3 separate regions of the Homo sapiens genome follow, and regions 1 and 3 are each linked to region 2. Evidence: fine-mapped expression QTL. A gene starts in region 2. Each other region holds a variant in brackets. All regions are shown on one strand. Distances are from middle to middle.

Evidence for each region. PIP is the estimated chance that this variant, and not a neighbour inherited with it, causes the effect.
Region 1: its variant is fine-mapped to the expression of BAIAP3 in whole blood (GTEx, PIP 0.99).
Region 3: its variant is fine-mapped to the expression of BAIAP3 in whole blood (INTERVAL, PIP above 0.99).

The regions. Positions count from the first base shown.
Region 1 is chr16:1,374,699-1,382,871 of GRCh38, reverse strand. The region is part of intron 10 of UNKL (unk like zinc finger); the gene reads left to right. Among named protein-coding and RNA genes, the nearest start is that of GNPTG, 27 kb to the right of the region's middle. RefSeq lists silencers at 3,100-3,239, 3,270-3,349, 3,390-3,439, 3,510-3,579 and an enhancer at 7,201-7,700. The variant G/A (reference allele first, on the strand shown) is at 4,637.
Region 2 is chr16:1,329,191-1,337,363 of GRCh38, reverse strand. It overlaps BAIAP3 (BAI1 associated protein 3), which reads right to left and starts at 3,719. Exons shown (of 34, transcript NM_001199097.2): 1 at 3,615-3,719. It also overlaps the pseudogene RPS20P2. RefSeq lists silencers at 3,670-3,829, 4,565-4,765 and an enhancer at 5,542-5,591.
Region 3 is chr16:1,385,691-1,393,863 of GRCh38, reverse strand. UNKL (unk like zinc finger) reads left to right here. Exons shown (of 15, transcript NM_001372107.1): 8 at 888-973; 9 at 3,170-3,232. Among named protein-coding and RNA genes, the nearest start is that of UNKL-AS1, 19 kb to the left of the region's middle. The variant A/G (reference allele first, on the strand shown) is at 3,756.

The sequences.
Region 1 (8,173 bases), 46 kb before region 2:
ATTCTCCTGCCTCAGCCTCCTGAGTAGCTGGGACTATAGGCGCCTGCCACCACACCTGGCCGTTTTTTGTGTTTTTAGTAGAGATGAGGTTTCACCACGTTGGCCAGGCTGGTCTTGAACTCCCAACCTCAGGTGATCCTCCCAACTCGGCCTCCCAAAGTGCTGGGATTACAGGTGTGAACCATTGTGCCCGACCTGCATTTTTTAAAGGGTCTCTTTCACAAATACTGGGAACTTTTGTGGCCGTGTGCATCTCCCCCTCGCAGCCCTGGTGTTCCTATGTGGGCTCTGTTGTGCACCTGCCGGAGAACCCTCCAGAATCCAGGGCCAGTCCCTCCCTCAGGAGGCCATGGGGAGAGTGGGAATCCTGGATGGACCCAGCGCCCAGTGGTGGGGCTTGGTCGGGGCGGGGGCAGGGGCACAGGCGCAAGCAGTGTTTGCGTTTGTTTCGTCCTCACTGGCTGGGAGTATGGGGCTGCCCTGCCCAGGGAAGGGCTCCTCATTTCTGCCTTGCCATGGAGGGCTCACCTGGTTTCAGGACAGGACTCAAACTTCCGCCCTCCGGCCTGTTTTGGAAGTCATCTTCTCTCGGAGCCTCTATGGAGGAGGAAGCATGTGGTGTGGGATGTCTCCTGTTAGGGCTTCACCGTAAAGGGTAGGTTTTTAAAACTGTGAATACTCCATGGGTGGGAGTGCTGTGTGCTGTGTTAAGCTTTCTCTCAGGCAGAAACAAGCCCACATGTGTTTTCAGTTTGAAACTAGGGCGTACATGTTGTTCCTCTTGAACAGAGAGGTCTCATGAGTTGAATATGCTGGGGTGCCCACCCCCATCCCATTCCATCCCAGCCCAGGGACAGAGCACTTGGAGATCACCACAGGTGACGGCCTTCCCTGAGTTTGTTTTTGTTCATTTTGGGGTTTTATTTTTTAAGACAGGGTCTTGCCCTGTCACCCAGGCAGGAGTGCAGTGGTACAGTCAGCTCGCTGCAGCCTCCAACTCCTGTGCTCCAGAGATGCTTCTGCATCAGCCTCTCAAGTAGAGCTGAGACCACAGGCAGGCACCACCGGGCCCGGTGAGAACATGCTAGTTTTAATTTGAGATCACTATCATACATGGGTTGCATAATCCAGGGCCCTGGATCTTACTAAATCACACCCTCAAATTCACACATCCCCTTCAGAAACTCAGAGGTCAGGGATGAAGTCTACACAGTGGCTAAAGCTCCATGAGGGTCTGGCCTCTGAGCAGGTTCTTTTTTTTTCTTGCTCTGTTGTGCAGGCTGGAGTGCAATGGCACAATCTTGCCTCACTGCCACCTCTGCCTTCCGGGTTCAAGCGATTCTCCCTCCTCAGCCTCCGGAGTAGCTGGGATTACAGGTGTGTGCCATCATGCCCGGCTAATTTTTGTATTTTTAATAGAGACGGGGTTTTGCCATGTTGGCCAGGCTGGTCTCAAACTCCTGACCTCAGGTGATCCGCCCACCTCAGCCTCCCAAGATGCTGGGATTACAGGCGTGAGCCACCACACCCGGTCACTTATTTTTTTCTTTTAAACAAATAAGCACACATTCTTTTTAAATAAAGTTTCTCTTCCCCAACCTAAAAGTAGTAATGCTAGAATTTGAGCATAGCAGAAAAATATTTAGGAAAATTAAATCCCAAACAAGAGAGACCATCTTGGACTGTGCTCACTCGGGTGGAAAGTCGACCCAGGTGCCTGTGTGCTTGACAGAGGCGTGGCTGCATCCGCGTAGCTGACCTTCAGATGGACTGGAGTTAGCACATTTGTAGTCATTTTTCCAACCATTCTTTCGTATCTGAGGTACGTTTTTGACCTGTTTTAGTATGTCACTCGCGATCTTGAAGCACACTCTTTCATTTACTTAAATATTTCCTGAGCCGTGAGCAGTGGCTCACGCCTGTAATCCCAGCACTTTGGGAGGCCAGGGCGGGTGGATCACCTGAGGTCAGGAGTTCAAGACTAGCCTGACCAACATGGTGAAACCCCATCTCTACCAAAAATACAAAAATTAGCTGGGTGTGGTGGCTTGCTCCTGTAATCCCAGCTACTCAGGTGGTTGAGGCACGAGAATTGCTTGGACCGCAAAGGCGGAGGTTGTAGTGAGCTGAGATCGTGCCACTGCACTCCAGCCTGGGTGACAGAGCGAGACTTGTTCTCAAAAAAAAAAAAAAAAAAATCCTGAACCAGCTACTCAGAGGTGAAGAGATGGATTTTTTTTTTTTTTCAGGATCGACACTGCCTTAGTTAGAGGCAATGTATTGTTGCTGCTGCTGCGGCTGAAATTGTGAGCTTTGCCACCCAGTGCCAGCCTCACTTTTTTCCTCTGTCCATGTCTGAGACATCGCTGTAAAGTTACATCCCTGCACTAGCCACAGGCACTGGAGGCAGTGTCCTGCCCGCTGACCCCAGGGCACTCCTGCGCCCCAGGCTCAGGGACTCCCTGCCCATGGCTCCCGGGACTGTCTGGCCCCAGGTGTAGGCCCGCCTGGCTGCGTGTGTATTTTATTAGCTGTTGTAGAGGGTTTTGGACAAAGCTGGTGTGTAGACTGGGTCGTTTTTTCCTTGTGTTAATAGTACAGTTTCCTTCAGGTTGTAGGTGTACTGTGACTGGAGCACGGAATAGAAGAAATGAGCGGATTCTGTATTTAAGGGATTTTTAGTGGGATCATTTCAGACCCATCTGATAGGTTCCATTTTCCTTCATCTTACACTTCATAGGAACAGGTTTCAGATTAAGAGAGACCTGCGAGCTCCGTACCCCGCGTTTAGATGGGGCTGGGCAGGCACGCGGACTTGGGAGGGAGGAGGGTCCTGCAGGGCAGGCAGCGGCCCCAGCTCACGCCGCCCCGCCCCGCGAGCGCCCCTGTTGGGTCGACCGTGTTTCACCTGAGTCCGCCCGGAGCAGCTGCAGGTGCAGGTGGGCAGGGCAGGAGGAGCCGGGCAGCGGGGCAGCTCTGGGGCTTTCTGCCTGAAGACCTCTGGCCCCCGCTGCCCGCGCCCACTTGCCCGCCCAGCTCGTAGCCAGGAGCCGCGGGGACCGGGTGCGCCCGAGTCGGGGGGAAGGTTGGGGGAGGGCAGCGCGGGGGGCGTGGCCAGTGCGACGGGGGCGGGGCCGAGTCACGTTGCGGGGCGGGGCCAGCGCGGAGGGGGCGGGGCGCGGGCCGGGTTTGAATCCCCGGCGGCGGCGCGGGGCGGCCGCGGACCGTGAGTCAGCATTGGCGGCGGCCCCAGCGCGTGGCAGCCGTGCGCCGCCAAGGTGCGGGTCTCGTTACTCGGCGGTCAGGAGCGGGCCCTCCCTTAGGTGCGCCCCCCGCCAGGTGCGTCCCCCGCGTCACGGAGCCGGGTGTGACAGCCGCGGGGTGGGCCCGGGCTTCTCAGAGGCCCGGAGCGAGGCGAAGGCGTCGCCTTCTCGGAACCTGCCTCTGCCGGGCGCTCGCCGCTTCCCAGCGCGGGCTCGGGCCGCCTGCGTCCCCTAGCTAGGCGGGGTCGGTGCCCCGAGGGAGGGCAGGGGAGCGGGGCAGGAGAGCGGAGCGGAGCGGGGCAGGAGAGGGCAGGGGAACGGGGCGGGGGAGGGCCGACCCCTGCGTCCTGGCCTGGCCCGCCTGCACTCAGCCCGCGTGGTACGGGAATTTCCCTGGCGTCGGCGGCTCCCCCGCCCTGTCCTGAGTTCCGAGCAGTCTGTAGCTTGTCCTCGCGTGTCCCTGACCCCGGGGGACCGCGGCGCCTTGAATGTGCTGTGTCACGGCAGAGCCGGGCTGTGTCGCGGTGACTCAGCGGGGCCGGTGGTTTCCTAACGCCCGGGGCTGAGGCAGCCTGGCCTGACCCAGCTGTACTCGCTTAGGTGACCAGCCTCACCTAGATTTTGCCTCTGCACAAGGGTCAGCTCTTTCTTTGAGAATGTTTCAGAAGATCTGGGTCTAACCTTGAAACAGTGAGGTGAGGTGGGGGAGAAGCTGCGGGTGAGAAAGTGGGCCAGGACGGTGCAGCAGCCGTCTCCCCCCTTGATTTCTGGGAGTGAGCCCTAGATAGCACCCTAGGGGTGGTGGAGCCTCCAGGACCCTCTCCGGTGCTCTCTTTGGATGAGGGGCACTTGGCTTTGAAGCGGGGCCGGAGTCTCTCGGGGGCACCCACACGCTCCCTGAACGTCCCCTCTCCAGGCAGCTTCCCGGGCTTCAGCACAGGTGACTTGGCTGAGGTAGGTGGTGGCTGACGCCCTCTGAGTTGAGTGCGAGCCGTAGTTTGTCGGGTGAGCATTGAAGGCAGCTTAGCCCCTCCACATGCTGCGCACTCTGCAGCTGGTGGGTGAAGCTTCTGCCGACTTAGCACGGAGCCTGGTGGGATCACCCCACTCCAAGGGGAGAAAAGGCGCCTCCGTTCCTGTCCCCCAACTTCTTTGCGTCTTTGATTTTCATGAGGAGTTTCTGGATCTCTGCCAGGTGTGAGGGGCGGTGAGCTCTGAAGGGGCTGCCATATCCTGATCCTGGGACTTGGGTGCAGAGGGCAGGTCCAGGTTCCCGAGCCTGGCTGACCTGACTATGGGCAAACCGCTTGGCCCTGCCCGTCATCAAGCCCCCGTATGGGAGCATGAGGGGGCTGTGGGCAGGCCTGCGGGTT[G/A]GGGGGTCGGTGCCTGTCCTCAGTGAGTCTGTCCAGGGCCCTGACATGGTTCAGGCTGACACCTGCAAGGATGTAGTGGGGGGCATTCCATGCAGGGCTTGGAGGCCGAGCAGCTTTCTGGGGACTGGTGTGGCTGATCTTACTGAATGGAAGGCACAGCCAGGCTGAGCCTGCAGTGGCACAGCAGGTTAGGAGCCCGGCAAAGGACCCATTGGGAAGCGGTGACCGGCACGCGCAAGGGCACAAGCTTCCTCCTTTCTTGCAGGTCAGGATTCAGGATGCAATGAGGCTTTTCTTGGTAGGAAGGTTACTATTGCAATGCATGAAGGCAGGCTGGGCATGGGCCTCAGGGGGTGTGGGTTGAGCGAGCAGCCCATGAGGAAGGGATCCTGCAGTGCCAGCTTCCAGCAGCCCCTGCACACGTGGTGTCTGGGAAGGGCCTGCAGTGGGGCCATGGGAACAAGCAAGGGATCCTTTGCCAGGGAGGAGGAAGGGCTTTGGCCCCTGCTGGACATCTGGGCTCGGGGCTGCAGAGCCACTGTGTTGGGCGGGTCCAGGCCACAGGAGAGGCTGCCAGCCCTCAGGGAGGAGGGTGGGCCTGGGAGGGAAGCTGGTGCCTATGACAAGAGGCAGTTCAGGGCACAGGCGCAGGGCTGGAGGGAAGGGCCCGGGGCAGCGGTGGGCAGAGTGAGTGGTGAGGAGGCCCCAGAAAACAGCTGCAGGGGGAGTGGAGGCAGAGGGGGGGTCTCCTTTCTGAGGGAGGACTCAGGGAGGGAGGGCTGTGCACAGCAGGGGCCAGATCTGTTGATACAGAGTCCTGAGGGGCCTGGGGAGGACGGGCAGGACCAACAGGGGCATCTGCAGGTGGGCCCCCATGTCCTGGGTTGAATTGTGTCCCCTGAAAGTTGCATTTGAGGCTGGGCATGGTGGCTTGCACCTGTAATCCCAGCACTTTGGGAGATGAGGCAAGCAGATCACCTGAGGTGGGGAGTTCATGACCAGCCTGACCAACATAGAGAAAACCTGTCTCTACTAAAAATGCAAAATTAGCTGGGGGTGGTGGAGGGCACCTGTAGTCCCAGCTGCTCAGGAGGCTGAGGCAGGAGAATAGCTTGAACCTGGGAGGCGGAGGTTGCAGTGAGCTGAGATCGCGCCATTGCACTCCAGCCTGGGTGACAGAGCAAGACTCTATCTCGGTTGGGGGGGCTGGGTGTGGCGGGGGAAGATGCACCTGAACCCCAGGCGTCGCACCTAGGTACGTGGCGTTGCAGGGAAACACAGCAGGTCCTCTTATCCCAGGGTTCGCTGTCCACTGCCTCATTTGCTGGTGCGAGGTCTGGGTTCAGGACAGCAGTGTACAGCATTTGCGCAGGTAACTTTTATTACTGTGCGGTGCTGAAATCTATGTTACCAGTTAATCTTGTTAATCTCTTACTGGGCCTGACGTGCAAATGAGGACGTTCGTATAGGAAAAAGCTTGGTATATAGGGGTTCCGTGCTATCCGCAGCATCAGGCGTCCATGGGGGGGTCTTGGAATGTATCCCCCTGCTACAGATCGCAGGGTGCTACTGCAGGGTCCTCATAACCAGGTTAAAATGAGGCCGGTAGGGTGGGACCCTGAGCCAGTGACCAGTCTCCCTATAAGAAGAAACTTGGACAGACACTCGGAAGAGGTGGCCCCCAGAGCAGAGGCAGACACTGGAGCCACGCAGCTGCCAGCCATGAAGGAGGATGGACGCCAGGAGGAGGAGTGCACCCCAGCCCTGGAGGGAGGAGGAGTGTGCCAGCCCTGGAAAGAGGGAGGAGGAGCATCCCCAAGCCCTCAGAGGAGGGAGGAGGAGTGCCCCAGCCCTGGAGGGAGGAGGGAAGAGGAGCACCCCAGCCCTAGAGTGAGGGAGGAGGGAAGAGGAGTGCCCCAGCCCTGGAGGGAGGAGGGAGAGTGGAGGAGGAGCGTGCCCCAGCCCTGGAGAGAGGGAGGAGGAGCGCCCCAGCCCTGGAGGGAGGAGGGAGGAGCATGCCCCAGCCTTGGAGTGAGGGAGGAGGGAGGAGCATGCCCCAGCCTTGGACTGAGGGAGGAGGAGCGCCCCAGCCCTGGAGGGAGGAGGGAGGAGCGTGCCCCAGCCTTGGAGTGAGGGAGGAGGAGCGCCCCAGCCCTGGAGGGAGGAGGGAAGAGGCCCTGCCCGCCACAGATCTCACTTTCAGCCTTGGAGCCACCTGTCCAAGGCCGCTCAGTGCGTGGTCCTCTGCCACTGCCTGCAGTGTCTCGGCTCTGCTGCTCAGCACGACTTCAGTCAGGCTTTGAGGTCTTGCCCTCTTCAGCCATGGCCTGAGAACGTCAAGTGGATGACAGCGACCGGGAGGGCTGGCCCACCCTGCAGGCCAGGGTGGATGTCCGCTCAGGGACGCCACCGTCCTGTGAATGGGAAGGAGAGGAGTGAATGGCTCTGGGTGCGGCTGGCCCAAGGCCTGCCTTTGGCTCCGCCGATGAGCATCCTTGAGGGCTGAGGCATTTTCGGATGCTACTGTGGGTTCCTGGTCCCCAGGGGGTCTTGGCCTGGCTGCCCCGACCCCCAACCTGTTACTCTAGTTTCTGGATAAGACCTTCGAAAGTCCCTAAAAGCTTCATTGGAACGGTGTCTCCGTGGGAGTGGAGGCCACTCCCGCATGCGCCGTGTGCCGTCCCGGACGCCCCAGGGGTTCAGGTTCTCTGCCCTGGGCCCTGCTGCCTCTGTGACGGGATGGGGAAGGACAGTGTTGCCAGGTGGCGCCACAGCCCGGCCTCCACGCCCCGGAAATTCCCTCACGGCTGGCGTGTGGACGAGGGTTGAGTCTGGGTCGTGCTGTGCGGTGGAGTGGGGTGGGGGTGGCCTCTGCCTTGCGGCCTCTGGAGTCCACCGTCCACTCCCGAGCCAGGCTTCTCTCCCGCCTGCCGCTCTGGGTGGTGGAGCACGGTCTCCACACAGTGTGGCTGCTGAGCGCGGCCAGATTCGGGGTGAAGTTCAGAGGCCCGGACCTGCCAGCTGCGCCACGTCCACGCCAGCCTCTGCCTGTGCTCCGCTGGGGCCACCACCGCGGCACGAGGATACTCCGGCTGCCCTGGGGGGCTCGGGGGGTGTGACCGCCGAGCGCCAGGCCTCGGGCGAGGGGCCACCCGCCACCCTGTGGTTGCTCCCATGGTCCCCGTGGCGCTGACTGGTGCCAGCTGCTTCCAGGGAGGAGAAGCGGAGGCCTGGGCAGAGGGGTGAGGTGCAGGCCACGTGCCCCACAGCTGTGTTCCCGACAAATCTCATGTGCGGCTAGGGCAGCGTTCTTCTTCAGAAGTCACCCTCCTGCCTTTCCTGCTGATTATGCTGAAAATGTCTGGAAAGGCCCCAGCTGTCTTCCCCGGCAGAGTGGGGTTTTGTCCCTCTGCGGCCCCTTGGCTGCCGAGTCCTTGTTTCTCCAGCTGTTTTTTGGGATGCCCCCTGTGTGGTGAACCTGCTGTCACCCTGACATGGCCACCAAGTCCTGACGAGTCAGCCCTGCCTGGCTCAGCC
Region 2 (8,173 bases):
TTGTACTTTCAGTGGAGACGGGGTTTCGCTATGTTGGCCAGGCTGGTCTTGAACTCCTGACCTCAGGTGATCCACCAGCCTCGGCCTCCCAAAGTGCTGGGATTACAGGCATGAGCCAGCACCGCCCAGCCCACCTGTGTCAGGGAGGAAGGCCGGGTGGTCCTGCCCTGCACACCCCCTTCAACAGGGGTAGGATGATGGCTAAGACACCGTAGCCTCCTGAGACCCTCTTCCTCTGCATGGGTGCAGGTGCAGACCCTCCACCTCTGCACTGCCTCTGCCCCCCAGCAGCCCCAGGGAGGTCTCCTCCCCGCTCCATGGAAACTGTCCCAGAGCCAGGCCACCTCTGCCCCACCACAAGAGAGGTACCCACTCTTGGGTTCCTGTCCCAGCCTTGCCGGCCTCTGATTTCTAGGACACCGCGCTCCCCCAGCCCCCCGGGGTCCTGGCCTTGCTGTCTGGGTCCCTTCCCTTGCCAGTGCTCCCTCATCCACCTGCGGAGGGTGCCTCCGGGCTGGGCACACTGGCCCTCGCAAAGGGCATAGTCATTCTCACGGGACAGGAGAGGAAACGAAGACCAGCAGGTTCTACCGCCCACTCAGGCTCTCACGGACAGTTGGCCCTGCATGCCAGGCCAGCTCCCCACAGTGGCACTAGACTCATAAGCTCAGTGGGCAGCGTGGGGGCCTGAGCACACCATGCCAGTGGTGGGTTCCAAACGGACTTTGTCGAGCCAGCTCCCGGGCCCCTGCTGTGTCTGTGGGGGTTCAGGGTCACCAGCCCCAAGCTATACCCACACCAGCTCAGACACCATTCCCGGATATCTCGTCTTGATTCCAGGGTCCCTGCCAGCCCCCGAGCCCTGGGTGCAGGCTCTTACGGGACCAGACCCTAGAGCTGAGGACAGGAAGGAGGGTTTGCGTCTCCCACCCTGTGAGAGGCAATGCTTGCGGGGGGGACTCACCTCCTTCAAACCTATCAGTGCCTTCCCCTGTGAGCCTCCCCCCCAAAAGATGGGGGGGCTTGGTAGGCTGGGTACAGTGCTTCTGGAAGCTGTCACCCCCACAGCCAGTCGTGAAATCCTCAGGGGCCTGGGAGTCACAAGCCCCCTTCCCCTCCCTTGCTGGGTGGAAGAGGCTGCTCCCCCTGCTGTCCCCCGAAGCCAGTGGAGCAGCCGCTGCTGGAGCTGTTGCCAGGGCAACCGCCGCGGCATGTGCGTGTGACAGGGGCGATGGGGGCTCGCAGTCCTGGAGACAAATGTGACGCAGGAGCCAAGTGGCCTGAACTGCGGGGTTGGGGAGGGGGTGTCTTTGTGATAACAAGATGTTCCAGGCAGAAAAAGGGGGCTCGGTACCCTCCCTGCATTTTCCTCTCCACATTCACCTCCTCATCCCCAGAGCGGCCCGAGAGGGGTGCCCTTTGCTCCCTGCATCTCAGATGGGCAAACGGAGGCGCAGGGCTGGGAGCCCGCCCAAGGTCCCAGAGCCAGCAAGTGGGCTGGGGACGGCAGTCAAGGTCTCTTTGGTGTCCCCAGTGCTAAGCTCCTGGGGCAACCAGCTAGGCCAGCCCCCCTGACCCCAACTGCAGCTCCTGCCCCTCCCACTGCCCGTTGCTAGGATGGGTGCAATAATGGCGTCTTGGCACAGGTGTACAGAAGACTTGGCTCATCCTGGGTGCGCAGAAACCCCTTTGGTTCCCCTGGAAACCCCAGGCTTCCTGGGCAGCTGATAGCCTGGCTGCAGCCAACTGCGTGGGCCCTGGGAGCCACCTGCCACAGAGGCCGGAGCTGCTGTGAATGGTGGGCATATGCATCTGTCTGTGACCAGTACAGGAAGCACTGGCTGCCTGGGTGGCTCTCAGCACTTACGGGGCAGGAGTGAGCCAGGTGCAGGGGACCCCCCGTCTTTCCCGTGGGCCCAGACGTGATGTAACTCCTTCCCAGTCTCTCACCCTGGGACAGTAGCATGAGGCAGGATGAACCCCCCCATACTCTGCTCATGCCTGATGCCAGGACCAGAACCACACTCCCATCTGTCCAGTGAGCAGAGGGAGGACCGCCAAGGAGCTCCTGCCTTGTGGCACTGGGGCTGAGCCACACCTGCCCATCCCACCTTGCTCCCTGGCTGTCCCCCAGGCCTGGGCTGAATGGGGAATGACATTTTGCAAGGAGGATGGCACATCTCATTTCACAGCCCAGGGTGGGGGCGACTTGCCCAGAGCCCAGATGTGAACCTGGGACTCTTAAGCCAAGCTGTCTCCTGCCAGGCCATTTGGGGGCTCAGGGTTGGGGGCAGTGAGGCAGCTGAGTCTGGGGGCAGCGGAGCAGAGGCTGGGTCAGCCTTCCTCCCCAGTGCAGGCTGTCTAGGAACAAACGCCTTCAACGTGTTGGGGGCGCCCTTCTTACCACATTTGGGGCAGGGGGTTAGCTGATGGTGCCCTGGGTGTGTGCCTGGGGCGGGAGGTGGCAGGACATCTGCCCCACAGGCTGGCTCTCCACGCTGCCCTCTTGGTCTTCTCTCCAGCTTCCCTGCTCTTCCTCCCTCAGCCCCCCGACTCCCCTTCACCAGGCCCTGGGGGTTTCCCGCAGGAATCTCTCCCTGGTCTCACCGACTCCTCCAGATGGCCCCTGCGAAGCCGATGGCGGTGCCCAGGTGCAGGTCACCTGGCGGGCCCGCTGCAAACGCTGCTCCCCGGGGTCTCATTCCAGTCGAACCCCGGGAATCTGCATTCTAACAAGCGCTGCCGGTGGCCTTGGGCTCCCCGAAGCCTCAGACGGCTGCCAAGGTCCAGCCGCTGGCGCCCAGCAGGAGCGCAGGAGACCGGAGCCCGAGGCGCCTTCTTCCTCCCCTCGCCCGTGTCTGCGCAGCGCTCCCTCCTCCCTCTGCTCACCGACCCCCTCCCTGCCCCGCCTCGCGGCACCCCCTTTCCCGGGGCCCCGGGCGCCCGCAGGAGCCACACCCCCAGTTCTATGGGGGTCTCTCCCCTCGGAGGGGGCGGGCGGTCCGGGGTGAGTCTGGGGGCGGGTCTAGTGTGTCACTTTAAACTCCTCCCCCGGAGACCCCGGCCCAGGCAAGAGCCCACAGCCCTTTGCCGAGTGGGGCTGAAGGAGGGGCCGCTTTGCACTCGCAGGGATTTCGGGGGGACTAAAGGGCCTTACGAGGACCTGCGGGAGGAGGGAAGGGACGAGGACGCTGGGGGGTGCAGCCCGCCCGGGAGGGGTGCTGGGAGGCCCCGGGCCCGTCTGCTCCCCCGGGGAGGGAGGCGCGGGGGTCGAAGCCTCGCTTGGCGGCTCAAGTGCGGGGGAGGCCGTCGCCAGCGCCCGGATACCCTCCCCGTCCGCTCCGCAGTGCGGACCCCACCGCCGCACCCTCTCCTGCGCGTTCGGAGGGGAAATGCCCCCGAGACCCCGCCCCTCCAAGCATGCGCGGCCTCAGTTTCCCCAGGGCCGAGGGGACGTCGAGACCTTCCCACCGCCCCCCGCCTCGGAGGCCACCCCCGTGCCTCCTGGGGGACCCGGACCAAGGGGGCGGCGGCCGTCGGTCCGTCCGGGTTGGGGCGCGGGGCCGAGCCCAGACGGCGGCCCAACAGCACTGGCCGCAGCCCGCGGCACTTACCGTGGGCCGGCGCGGGGATGGGGGGGCTCCTGGGGCGCTGCGCTCGGCACCAGCTCGGGGACGCCGAGGCACAGCTACCGCTCCCAGCCGCGCGCGCCGACGACTGAGCAACTGCTGGGCGGACGCCGCTGCGGGGGCGGGGTCTGACTGGGGGCGGGGCCGGGCCTGACCGGGGCGGGGCCTGACCGCGCTCGCCCCGCCCCCCGCGTCCACGGCGCCTTAGGGGACCCGGCCGGGGTCTCCGTGCCTTGAGCCGGGCCGGAGCCCCCTCCCCCGGGATGCGGGGCTGTGAGTCAACCCACAGGTGGCTGCGGGACGGGGAGCGGGCTTGGCTGCCTCGGGACCCCGCCTGGCCGCGCGCGCCCTCCCCGTGGCGCGTGGGGTCTAGAAGGGGGTGGTCGGCGGGGTCTCCTCCGCGGACCCCAGGGAAGCCACGGTCACGAAGACCAGCAGCGGTGCAGACCTTTCTGGAAGGGCCTGACTCAGGGACACCTCGCGGGCCCCGCCGCTCTCTTCTCGGGGCGGGGATGCGTCCTGCAGGGATCCACTCGGGACGCCCCACGCCCACGCGGACGGTCTGTGGGGCGATCGTCCCTGGGGCTCTGGTGAGGGCCCAGTTGGCGCTTGTGGGGTCACAGCCGGCCAGAGCCCCCGGAGCCCCTGGGGTCTGCACTGGACCCCGCCAGCCCCTCCCGGGTGGCTCCCCGCTCTTCCTCCGCTGCGCTGTCCTGGAACCCCAGCGGGCCCGCGGTCTCCTGCAGGGTTTGTTAAGGCATTGATGGGTCCTGTCCCCAACCCGCTGGTCCCGAAGTCTGGGTGGGGGCGCGATCTGCGTTTTTTCCCTTTTTTTTTCAGACAGAGTCTCGAAAAAGCTCTCAAAAATAGCTCTCAACCAGGTTGGAGCGCAGTGGCACCATCTCCACTCGCTGCAACCTCGAACTCTCCGGCTCAAGTGGTCCTCCCGCTTCAGCCTCCCCAGTAGCTGGGACCACCCGCCGGCTAATGTTTTTTGGTTTCTTTTGTGGAGATGGGGGTCTCCCTATGTTGCCCAGGCTGGTCTCAAACTCCCAGGCTCAAGGGATCCCCCTTCCCCGGCCTCCTAAGGCGCTGAGATCACAGGTGTGGTCCCCACGCCAGCCAGCGCCTGCACTTCCCAGCTCCAGTCTGCTGCCGCCAGTCCAGGGACCACACTTTGAGAAGTCCGTGCTAAGCATGGTCCTGTCGGGGGCCTGAGGCTCTCAGACTTGCCGAGGGCGCAGCGGCCCCCCGGTCGCACCTGCCCTTGGTCGAATACAGCTGGACACTCGCAGCCCTTTGGGGACAAGGGGTGGGGGGTGGTCAGACTTTGGAGTTTTCACCCGAAGGGCACCTGGGCAGCCCAAGGCCAGACAGGCTTCCAGAACACAGCTCTTCAAAGGGAGGGGGCCCGTCTGCCAACAACTGTCTTGGCTTCTGGATCCCAACTCACTCAAATCCATGCCCGCCCCACACCTGTCTGTGCAGGATCGGGGGCAGGACCCCTGGGTGGGCTCTCCTTCGGGACGCTCGGCCCAGGCTCTGCCGGATCCTGACCCAGCACAGCCAGGCCGGTGGGGGAGGGCAGGGAGCTTGCAGGAAATGCAGGGACTGGCTGGGACAGGGACGCGGTGGGGGAAGCAGGGGAGGGGGCCTGGGCCCTCAGCCCCACTCTGTAGCAGTGTTCTCCTGAGGGGCTGGTGGGTCTGGAGACCGGGTCTGGGAGTGACGCCCCTGCCTCTGCGGTCTTGCACCAGGTTCTGCCCACCTGTTGGAACAAACACAGGCCGGTTGCCATGGTGATCACACTGGCTTTAAGTGAAGGGACAGGCTCTGCAGCTACGGTAAACAGGAAGTTGGGAGGGGCAGCCGCTGCTCCGGCCCCTACGAGAGCACCAACCCTGAAACCAACACTGCAGTCCGTTGGGTGCGGGAGCACCCTTGGAGACCTCTCCCCACTCTTTTCTAGGTAGGGAGACTGGAGTCCGGAGACGGGAAAGGGCTTTTCCAGGGCCACATAGTGATAGGTTGAGTCCCAAACCAGCCCTGGGCCTCCGTTTCCCCAGGAGAGGACGGTCACTAGGACTGTCCCCTCCACAAACATTTGGTGAGGAGTCGAGGAATGAACGATCCGAGCGACACCCCACTCAGTGACCAAGGCCTTCATTCTCCAACTTGTTCTGAGGCTGAAGACAGGCTGACCTGGATCAAAGTCCCAGCACCCTGCTCACCCCTGCCCCAGGGCGACCCTCCACTGCCCGGGCCTCAGTTTCCCTCTTCTGTAAAATGGGGACAACAGCAGCACCCACCTTGGGTGCAGCTGGGGGACCTCAGTGAGCCAGTCTCAACTCACAGCAGGTCAGCCTCAGTCCCAGTTGGTGGGGATGGGAACTGCAGCCACCCAGCCAGAACTCCGGCCCCTCCAGTGACCCAATTTACCTTTCCATAGCTTGGGGCTGGAAGCCCATCCTCGCGTGAGTCCCCTCCCACTAAGAGAGAGGGCAGGAGAGTGGGCCGCCCACCCTCCCCACCCTGAGCCCCAGGCCTCACTCTGAAGGGGCTACCCTGGCGTCTCTGCCTTCGGACCGGAGTGCAGACAGCTGCCGTGCTCCGGGGACAGTGAGGGGATGGCGCAGGTGCAGGAACACCTCCCACCGATGTGTCGGGACACGAGACCCCCTGCCCAGACGGGGTCAGAGCTTGAGGAGGCTGCTGGGGCACCAGGGCTGCTTGTGCAAAGCTGAGAAAAGCCATTTTTCAAGCCTGGCTCTTTTCACATTCTCAGGACTTTGTGCTGGAAAGGGTCTGGCAGGCAGGGAGAGTAGCTTTTCCTCCTTAGGGCCGGGCCGGTGGCGGGGGGCGGAGATGGGGGGGCAGGTAAAAACACCAGGCTCTGGATACGCAGGCGCCAAAGCCGCTGAAGCACACAGGTGAGGCCATGGCAGAGTTAGACAGCCCCTCCTGTTCCACGCTCATGAGCACAGCGCAGGGCCCAGTGCTACCACCCTCTGGTGGCAGCCCTAGAAATTGCAGGCACAGCCTCCCAGAATCTGCCCCCAACTTCCCTCTGAGGACCCAAGCAAGGAAGGGCAGGGTCCTTGGAGAGCTCGTGGGGTCAGAGCCCAGGGACTCTGGCCAGGGACCCTGCCTGCCCCGGAGCTGGAGGACCCTGAAGACTGCCAGAACCTGTTCCTTGCCCCATCAAGAGAGGGGCTCTGGGTGGGAGGGCCTCAGCCCAAGTCTGGCCTCATGCCTGAGATGCTGGTCTCCAGATCCCACACCAGAAGCTCCGGGAGTCCTGCTGCCACGCGTGCACAGGTGGGGCCGGCTGGAGGTGACCACCCAGTGTCACGCTGGAGTTCTCTCAGGCCTCCGTGCTAGTAGCAGCATCTGTGAGGGGTCCAGGGCAGGGCAGGGACAAAGAAGTGGGCCCAAGACAGGGTCCTACCAAGCCCCCAAACAAAGGCCATTGGTGTGCCAGAGCCCTGCAGGCAGGACAGCCCCTGCTGCGGTGAGGCTTGGATGGCAGGGAGGATGGCACCCTGTCCCCTGGCCCCGCCTCCCACCAGCCTGAGGGTGGGGGTGTCAGAGGCCCCTTCCCAGCGAGATGGGCTTCTGTGCTCACTGTGGTTAGGGGCCCAGCAGGGAGAGGCCAGGCCCTCAGTGTGCATCCTTCTGTGCAGAGCTGGGGTTGGGAGGCGACTCCTCCCAGCTCTGGGGGCTTCAGAGTCCCTCCTTTTCTTTTTTTTTTTTGAGATGGAGTCTTGCCCTGTTGCCCAGGCTGGAGAGCAGTGGTGTGATTTCGGCTGTAACCTCTGCCTCCTGGGTTCAAGTGATTCTCCTGCCTCAGCCTCCCGAGTAGCTGGGACTACAGGCGCCCGCCACCATGCCCAGCTGATTTTTGTATTTTTTTGTTTTTTTTTTTCAACTGGTAATCAATTTATTAAAATAGTTGACTTAAGCATCTGCAATGGTGACTTCCACTTCAACTCCTGGCTCAATACTGATGGAAGTAATCTGCTTAACAATCTCAGAAGGACTGTGCAAGTCAATGAGTTGCTTATGGATGCTCATCTGGAGTTTTTTTTTTTATAAGTTTTTTTTTGAGATGGAGTCTTGCTCCGTCGCCCAGACTGGACTGCAGTGGCGCGGTATTGGCTCACTGCAAGCTCTGCCTCCCAGGTTCACGCCATTCTCCTGCTTCAGCCTCCCAAGTAGCTGGGACTACAGGCACCTGCCACCATGCCCAGCTAATTTGTTTGTATTTTTAGTCGAGATGGGGTTTCACTGTTAGCCAGGATGGTCTCAATCTCCTGACCTCGTGATCTGCCCGCCTCGGCCTCCCAAAGTGCTGGGATTACCGGCGTGAGCTGTAACCTGGCCTCATCTGGAGTTTTTCTTGTAGTGATTCTCAAAGTGTTGGTAGGATTCAAACCGGTCCTTTCACTTTGAGATTCTTTTCCTTTGTGCCTCTGATCAAGTCAGCACACACCTTTTCAAGTGATTTTATGCTGTAGCTCGTTAGAGTGATTCAGATTTGGTGA
Region 3 (8,173 bases), 56 kb before region 2:
CCTGAGCCTGGAGGCTGAGTCCTGGTGTGGGCTGGCTGGCACCTCCACCTGCCTCCTGGGCATCCAAGCTGGGTCCTTCTGCCACCCACTGCCTGGGCCTTGCTCCGAGACTGCCATCTTGCCAGGCACCCACCCAGGAGCACCACCTCCCTTGTGGAGAGAGGGGGTCTGTCCGCCCCAGCTCGGGGAGACAGCAGAGACCCTCAAGCAGGGTTGCTCAGGGTGACCCTGTGCTTTCCAGAGCCCGTTTGCTGTCCAGGGGATGAGGGCTTAGCTTTGGCGATTATGTGGTCCCTAATAAGTTCCCAGCAGCAGAAACAAGCCCCAGTGGGAACCCACGCGGCCTCCTCCACGCTGCAGTGGGTTTCCTTCTGGCAGCCCTGGGGTTTGGGTTCAGTGGGAACCCACGCGGCCTCCTCCACGCTGCAGTGGGTTTCCTGGCAGCCCTGGGGTTTGGACTCAGTGGGAACCCATGCGGCCTCCTCCACGCTGCAGTGGGTTTCCTCCTCGCAGCCCTGGGGTTTGGGTTCAGTGGGAACCCACACGGCCTCCTCCTCCCAGCCCTAGGATTTGGGTTCCAGGTTTTGTGTGTGTGGTCACAAGCTCAAATTTTCCTTTGTTTTTTATTTTAGTGGGGAGGGCAGCTATTCTTGTTCACGTTTTAAACATTGCTTTTAGTGTTAAAAACATGAAAAACTGGTCTAAGACCAGAGGGTCCTGTTGCCCTGAGTGTCCCCACCACTGCCCAGCCGTCCTCTGCCGCACCCCTGAGGGATGATTGTGACGAGGCTGCGCACACTCGGCCCTGACGTGTGGTGCGGAGACTTCTGCGTGTCACTGTCGCCCACCAGCGGCCCTCAGAGTCTGCTGCTCCCCTGTCCTTGCAGAGAGCCTGGGGATGGTGAATGAATGGGGCTGTCACGACCTCCACCTCACGAGTCCTTCCTCCACGGGCAGCGGCCAGCCGGGAAATGTAAGTGAACGGCCTTCCCAGGACAATGCCCAGTGTCCTTTGGTTTAATTGAACTCTTAGGGATGTGGATGGATATGAGTTTTCAGCAATGTGGTCGTGGGCAGTCTGTGGAGTTCGTGGCTCTTCTAGAAGAGTCTAGAAAAATCCTTGCCACTAGGCTGGGGGCAGTGGCTCACGCCTGTCATCCCAGCACTTTGGGAGGCTGAGGCGGGTGGATCACCTGAGGTCAGGAGTTCAAGACCAGCCTGGCCAACATGGTGAAACTCCATCTCTACTAAAAATACAAAAATTAACCAGGTGTGGTGGTGGGTGCCTGTAATCCCAGCTACTCAGGAGGCTGAGGCGGGAGAATCACTTGAACCCAGGAGACGGAGGTTGTGGTGAGGTGAGGTCCCGTCATTTCACTTCAGTCTGGGTGACAGAATAAGACCCCATCTCAAACAAAAAAAGAGGGGGGAAGAGGGGGTTGGGCTTCTAGGAAGGTAAGGCTATGGGGGAGACTGGCGGAAGGTAAGAGCAACTTCAGTGAGGTTGGTTATGCAGCCTCAATCTGCAGTCTCTCCTCCTGGTGTGGAGAGGGGAGAGGACACCTTCACAGAGGGAATTCACGCCCGGCTTCGAGGCAGGAAGGAAGCAGAGAGCTGCTCCTGCATCTACTGTTTCTCAGCTGCCTTCAACTCAAAATAATCTTTTTGTCAAAGAGTGGCATGTTTTGGGGTGGCACACTCTGACTCCCTTCATATATTTCTTAACAGTTTCACCTGAGCCTCTGCCTTAGGTGAATGGCTCGGTTTGGGGTTTGATGCCATGGTTGGTTCAGGGAGTGCAGAGCTGGCACCCTGCCTTCACACGGACCAACCCAAGGTCAGAGAGCCACGTTCAAATGTAAGAAATGGAACTCAGGGCCGGGCGCGGTGGCTCACGCCTGTAATCCCAGCACTTTGGGAGGCCAAGGCGGGTGGATCACCTGAGGTCAGGAGTTCGAGACCGGCCTGATGAACATGGTGAAACCCCATCTCTACTAAAAATACACAAATTAGCCGGGCGTGGTGGCGTGCGCCTGTAATCCCAGCTACTCCAGAGGCTGAGGCAGGAGAATTGCTTGAACCCGGGAGGTGGAGCTTGCAGTGAGCTGAGATCGCGCCACTGCACTCCAGCCTGGATGACAGAGTGAGACTTTGTCTCAGAAAAAAAATGAAAAGAAAAGAAATGGAACTCAGGAGAACCGACAGGGAGCCAGCAGGTTCAGGCATCTCTTCTGTTTCATGAGACCTTCGAGATTTGGCATCTTTGGCCAGTTGCAGTGGCTCACGCCTGTAAACCAGGCACTTTGGGAGGCTGAGGTGGGACAATCGCTCGAGGTCAGGAGTTCGAGACCCGCCTAGGCAACATAACAAGACCCTGTCTCTACAGAAAGCTTTGAAAAATTAACTGGGTCCACTGGCAAATGCCTGTGCTCACAGCTTCTTGGGAGGCTGAGACAGGAGGATTGCTTTAGCCAGGGAGGTCATGCCACTGCACTCCAGCCTGGGAGACAGAGCGAGATCCTGTCTCAAAACAAAACAAAACCAAAAATAGCATTCGTCTAAATTCTGAGCAGAGCTTATGTGTGTGTGTGTGTGTGTGTGTGTGTGTGTGTGTGTGTGTGTGTATCTTTAAGGGACCAAGAGTACTGCTGAATAGGTACATATATATTGTGTGTGTGTGTGTGTGTGTGTGTGTGTGTGTGTATTTTTTTTTGGAGACAGAGTCTCACTCTATCACCCAGCCTGCAGTGCGGTGGTATGACCTTGGCTCACTGCAGCCTCCACCTCCTGGGTTCAAGCGATATCCTTTTTTAAATTTTTTATTCTATTTTTTGAGACGGAGTTTCACTCTTGTTGCCCAGGCTGGAGTGCAATGGTGCCATCTCGGCTCACTGCAACCTCCACCTCCTGGGTTCAAGCGATTTTCTTGCCTCAGCCTCTCGAGGAGCTGAAACTACAGGCATGTGCCACCACGCCTGGCTATTTTTTGTGTTTTTAGTAGAGACAGGTTTTCACCATGTTGGCCAGGCTGGTCTCGAACTCCTGAGCTCAGATGATCCGCCCGCCTCAGCCTCCCAAAGTGCTGCCACTGTGCCCAGCCTGAATTGTATGTTTTTAATTTACATTTCCTCCCTGCTTTTTCCACATATGACTGTTTTTTATGTTGCAGGCCAAGCGGAGAGACTCGCCGGCCGAGGGTGGCCCTAGGGGCAGCGAGCAAGACAGCAAGCAGGTACAGGCCCCCAAGGTTTCCCACCCTCGTGCCTGATGTCGCGTTAGGGCTGAGGCTTCCCGCCCTCGTGCCTGACCCGTGGCATCGCGTTAGGGCAGCGCTCATGCATCCTTGGTCCCGCCCACTCTCGGCTCGCAAAGCCATCTGGTTGACGTCCGCTTGTTGTAGAATTAGCTCTTTCCTGGTACCCCCGTGTTTGTCTGTTTGAAACGTTCGTGTTATACCTTGGAAACAAAGCCACAACATCGTGCTCGGGGAAATAAGAGGGGCCCTTTGGAGCCCATCTGTGTTACTTTTTTGGGCTGCGAGGGAAGGATGCAGATGGGGCCGTTCCAACAGCAGAACTTGCCGGGCACGGTGGCTCACACCTGTAATCTCAGCACTTTGAGAGGCCAAGGTGGGCGGATCACGAGGTCAGGAGTCCGGGACCAGCCTGGCCAACATGGTGAAACCCCATCTGTACTAAAAATACAAAATATTAGCCAGGCATGGTGGCACGTGCCTGTAGTCCCAGCTACTCGGG[A/G]AGCTGAGGCAGGAGAATTGCTTGAAGCCGGGAGGTGGAGATTGCAGTGAGCCGAGATCGTGCCACTGCACTGCATCCTGGGTGACACTGTGAGACTCTGTCTCTGAATGAATGAATGAATGAATGAATGAGGTAGTTTTAGTTGGGCACAGTAGCTCACACCTGTGGTTCCAGTACTTTGGGAGGCTGAGGCAAGAGAATTGCTGGAGCCCAGGAGGTGGAGGTTGCAGTGAGCCAAGCACTCCAGCCTGGGCGACAGAGTGAGGCCCTGTCTCAAACCAAACCAAAACCAATCCCCAAGCAGCAGCACTTGACTCTCTCAGTTCTGGGGGCTGAGTCCGAGCTTGAGCTGTCCAGAGCTGGCTCCTGAGGCCCCCCGGGTGCAGATGCTGCCTCCTCCGTGTCCTCTGGGGTCACCCCTCTGTGCGTGGGCATCCCTGGGGTCTCTTCCTGAGGACAGTGGCTGCGTAGGGCCCTGCCCCCACACCTCATTTCATTGTTGCTGTTGTGTTTTTACAGATTCTTAAATTTTTTGAGGCAGGGTCTGGCTGTGTCACCCAGGTGTAGTGCAGTGGCCAAGTCCCAGCTCACTGCAGCCCGGGACTCCCAGGCTTGAAGCAGTCCTCCCACTTCAGCCTTCTGAGTTGCTGGGACCCCAGGCATACACCACCAGGCTTGGCTAATTTTTGTATTTTTTTAGAAATGGGGTTGCCCAGCCTGTTCTCGAACTCCTAGGCTCAAGCAATCCTCCTGCTTTGACCTCCCAAAGTGTTGGGATTACAGGTGTGAGCCTCCACGCCTGGAGTAAGAACTCATTTCACCTTAATTACTCCTCACAGGCCCTATCTCCAAATTTAGTCACACCGGGGGTCAAGGCTTCCACGTAGGAATTTGGGGGGGACACGTTTGGTCCATAACAAAGACACTGTGCTGACTGAAATGAGCCAGTTACCGAAAGGCAAAACCTGCGTGATTCCACTCACAGGAGGTCTCTAGTGGAGTCACATTCACAGACAGCAGGTGGCATGGTGGGGGCCGGGGCCGGGGCCGGGGGAGGGGGCAAGTGTTCACGGGGTCAGAGCTTCCGGCTGGAAGATGAGGAGTTCTGGAGGTGGACGCGGTGATGGCTGCACAGCGGTGTGGATGGAATTCATGCCACGTACTACACCAAACCATGGCCACTGTAGCAAATTTTATATTATATTTCACTATAATACAGAGAAGAAAAACCAGGCAGGCAGTGCTGGTGGTAGCTTGGGGTGTGCTGTCCCCACGGGGCGAACGGTGCTGGTGTTAGCGGAGGTGCGGTGTCCTCATGGTGTGAACGGTGCTGGTGGTAGCGGAGGTGTGGCGTCCCCACGGGGAGAACGGTGCCGGTGTTAGTGAAGGTGCGGGATCCTCACGGAGCTCTCGTCTGACCCCTCTCACTGTGCCCATCCCTCATGTGGATGGACTCCCACACCAGGCCCGTCATCTGTGGCCATTGTGCCTTGGGGTACAAGGAGTGACATGGATGTTGATGATTTTCAGGTGATCGTTTGGGCTGAAGTCACAGTGTGCGCATCACCCTGGCCAGCTCCCGGGCAGGGTCAGCATGGGGTCTGGGGGGTCACTCAGGGCTGAGGCTTCCTCTCTGGTCCCTGTTGGTTTATGGCCTCCAGTAGGCTGGGGAAGGCCTCCGGGGTGGAGTCCCCTCCTGCAGACAGGCGGGAAGGAGGCGGCCTTGGCTTCTGAGGGTGCTGCATTCACCCTGGGCCGGGCAGCGCTTTGGGAGCCTGAGGCTGCCTGTCCCAGCCGAGGGTCAGCCCGTGCCCAGCCCTCAGATCAGTGCTGCTTTGGGGGCAAACGTGGCACCTGCACTGTGGTGCCTCCTGGCTTTCTGCATTCTTGGGCTCTATGCAGACACAGGTGCGGGGCACAGACTCCCTGTCCGACCCAGGGCGGGGCAGGCCTGCTCTGCAAACCCCAGCGTCGTCCACGGCTTCTTGGTGGGCCCGGGGCCCTTCCAGGCAACAGTCCCTCAGCTCTCCCTTACATGGGAGGTGGCCTCTGGGCCTGGGTGATGCTCTGGAGTTGGGTTCAGGCAAGGACTGAGACGCCCACAGGGGTCATGGAGCTGAGAGGACATCCACAGGGGTGACTGTGACCCGGGCGGTGGCCTCTAGGCTACTGGTGGGTCAGGACATGGGGAACCTCAGCCTGACTGAGCAGGGGCAGCTTGTGTGTAGGGACCGTGCCCCAGAGCACGGACCTGGGCAGACCCCGGGACACAGGGTGGGCTGCCAAGAGATGGGATGAGGCGGGGGTGGGGGAGGGCTTCCGCAGGCCGGGCAGCCGTGCGGCGGTGCAGTGTCCACGTCCCCGGAGGGCCGGGCAGCCGTGCGGCTGTGCAGTGTCCACGTCCCCGGAGGGCCGTGCGTTGCCATCCTGAGCTTTTGGTTCTGAGTGATAGCTGCTGGATGCGGTGAGCTCAGCAGACCGCCCCACGTCACTCACCCCTTGCTGGTGCCTGCCTCCTCAGCCCCACAGCCCAGGTGGCCCTGTCCTTTGCTGGTAGAGAAGGTCGGCTCCCTCCCCGATCCAAGCCATCGGGGTACAAGGAGCTCCCAGGTGTGCGTTGCTCCTGGATGTCTGGTCACCAGAACGTCTGTCAAGAGGTCCTTCTCAGCCTTCCTGGGGCCACACTGAGGGTCTGAAGCAGGGACAGGAAGTGCAAGGGATAGGGGGCGGGTTGCCACTGAGATGGCACCAGGTCTCGAATCACCCATAGTGTTTCTGGGCTGCTTGCTGGAGAACATGAGGCTTCCAGCAACCCTGTCACCAGGCTCACCATGGGGGATTGATAGGGGGTATTGGCAGCACCATGCATGGCTGGGAGTGTCCCCGGTGTTGCATGGCTGGGAGTGTCCCCGGTGTTGCATGGCTGGGAGGGTCCCCGGTGCTGCATGGCTGGGAGGGTCCCCGGTGCTGCATGGCTGGGAGGGTCCCCGGTGCTGCATTGCTGGGAGGGTCCCCGGTGCTGCATGGCTGGGAGGGTCTGCGGTGTAGGGTGCAGGAGTTACCGCCGTCCCTGATGCTCACGGGGTGGACTGTGGTCCGTTTTTTCATGGCTTGAGGAAAAGTGGTCTCTGGGCCAGGGAGAGGAAGTGGATTATGGACGAGGGGGCAGGCCCCTTCTCGCACCTGGGCAGGGAGCTCTGGTGGCTGTCTCCAGACTTTGCAGCTGGAGGGGACTGTTTTCAGAGTCAGTCACGGGGGGCTCTGTGCACCTCCTGGGCCGTGGGCTGAGGGGCAAATCTGGTATCCAGAAGGAAGCCAGGGCAGGCAGCAGGACCCTTAGGTCACAGAAGCCAGGAGCCAGGCGCGTTCTTGTCGGGGATTTCTGATCTTTAGGAAATGCACATTAAAATTTCTTCATTATGGACAGTTTTACTTAAGGAGACAAACTAGTAAAATCACACCTCCCAAGGTTAACTTTTTCTGCATTACTTTGCAGCAAAACCCAGATATCATACCATTTGAATTGTAATATTTCAGGATGCAATTCATTTTTTTTGGAAACAGAGTCTCTCTGTTGCCTGGGCTGCAGTGCATTGGTGCGATCTCGGCTCACCACAACCACTGCCTCCCGGATTCAAGCAATTCTCCTACCTCAGCCTCCCAAGTAGCTGGGATTACAGGCGCCCACCACCACGCCCGGCTAATTTTTTGTATTTTTAGTAGAGATGGGGTTTCTCCATGTTGGGCAGCCTGGTCTCGAACTCCTGATCTCAGGTGATCTGCCCACCTCGGCCTCCCAAAGTGCTGCGATTACAGGTGTGAGCCACCGCGCCCGGCCTTGGCTAATTTTTTTTGTATTTTTAGTAGAGACAGGGTTTCGCCATGTTGGCCAGGCTGGTCTCGAACTCCTGACCTCCAGTAATCTGCCCACCTTGGCCTCCCAAAGTGCTGGGATTACAGGCATGAGCCACTGTGCCCAGCCAGAAACTCATTCTAATCCAGCTTTTGATGCTTGGTTTTGCAGTGACCTCGTAGGTGGCTCTGGGTCTTTTGTGTCGGGTGTTTTCTTGTGAGCAGCACCCTCCCCGTTACTGGGTTTTTATTCAGCACTGCTCTGTGTGTTGCTCTTTTTCTTTTGATCTATTATCCACCAAATACAGATCATGTGAATTGCCCTGTGTTTTACTTTCCCTGGTGACGAGGTCACAGGACCACGCTATGGATGTTTTGGAAGTGGTGCTGGATCTCTTTTTAAGTCCCTGGGAGGACATTTCTCTGGGGGCCCCCCAAGGTGCTCAGGAGCCAGTCCTGGGCGAGAGCCGGGGCGGGGGCACCCAGGAGGTGTGGGGAGAAGGGCAGGCAGGCTGCACGGCTTGCCCCTCGGGCTGGCGGGCTCCTGGCCGCTGACACATCTTTCT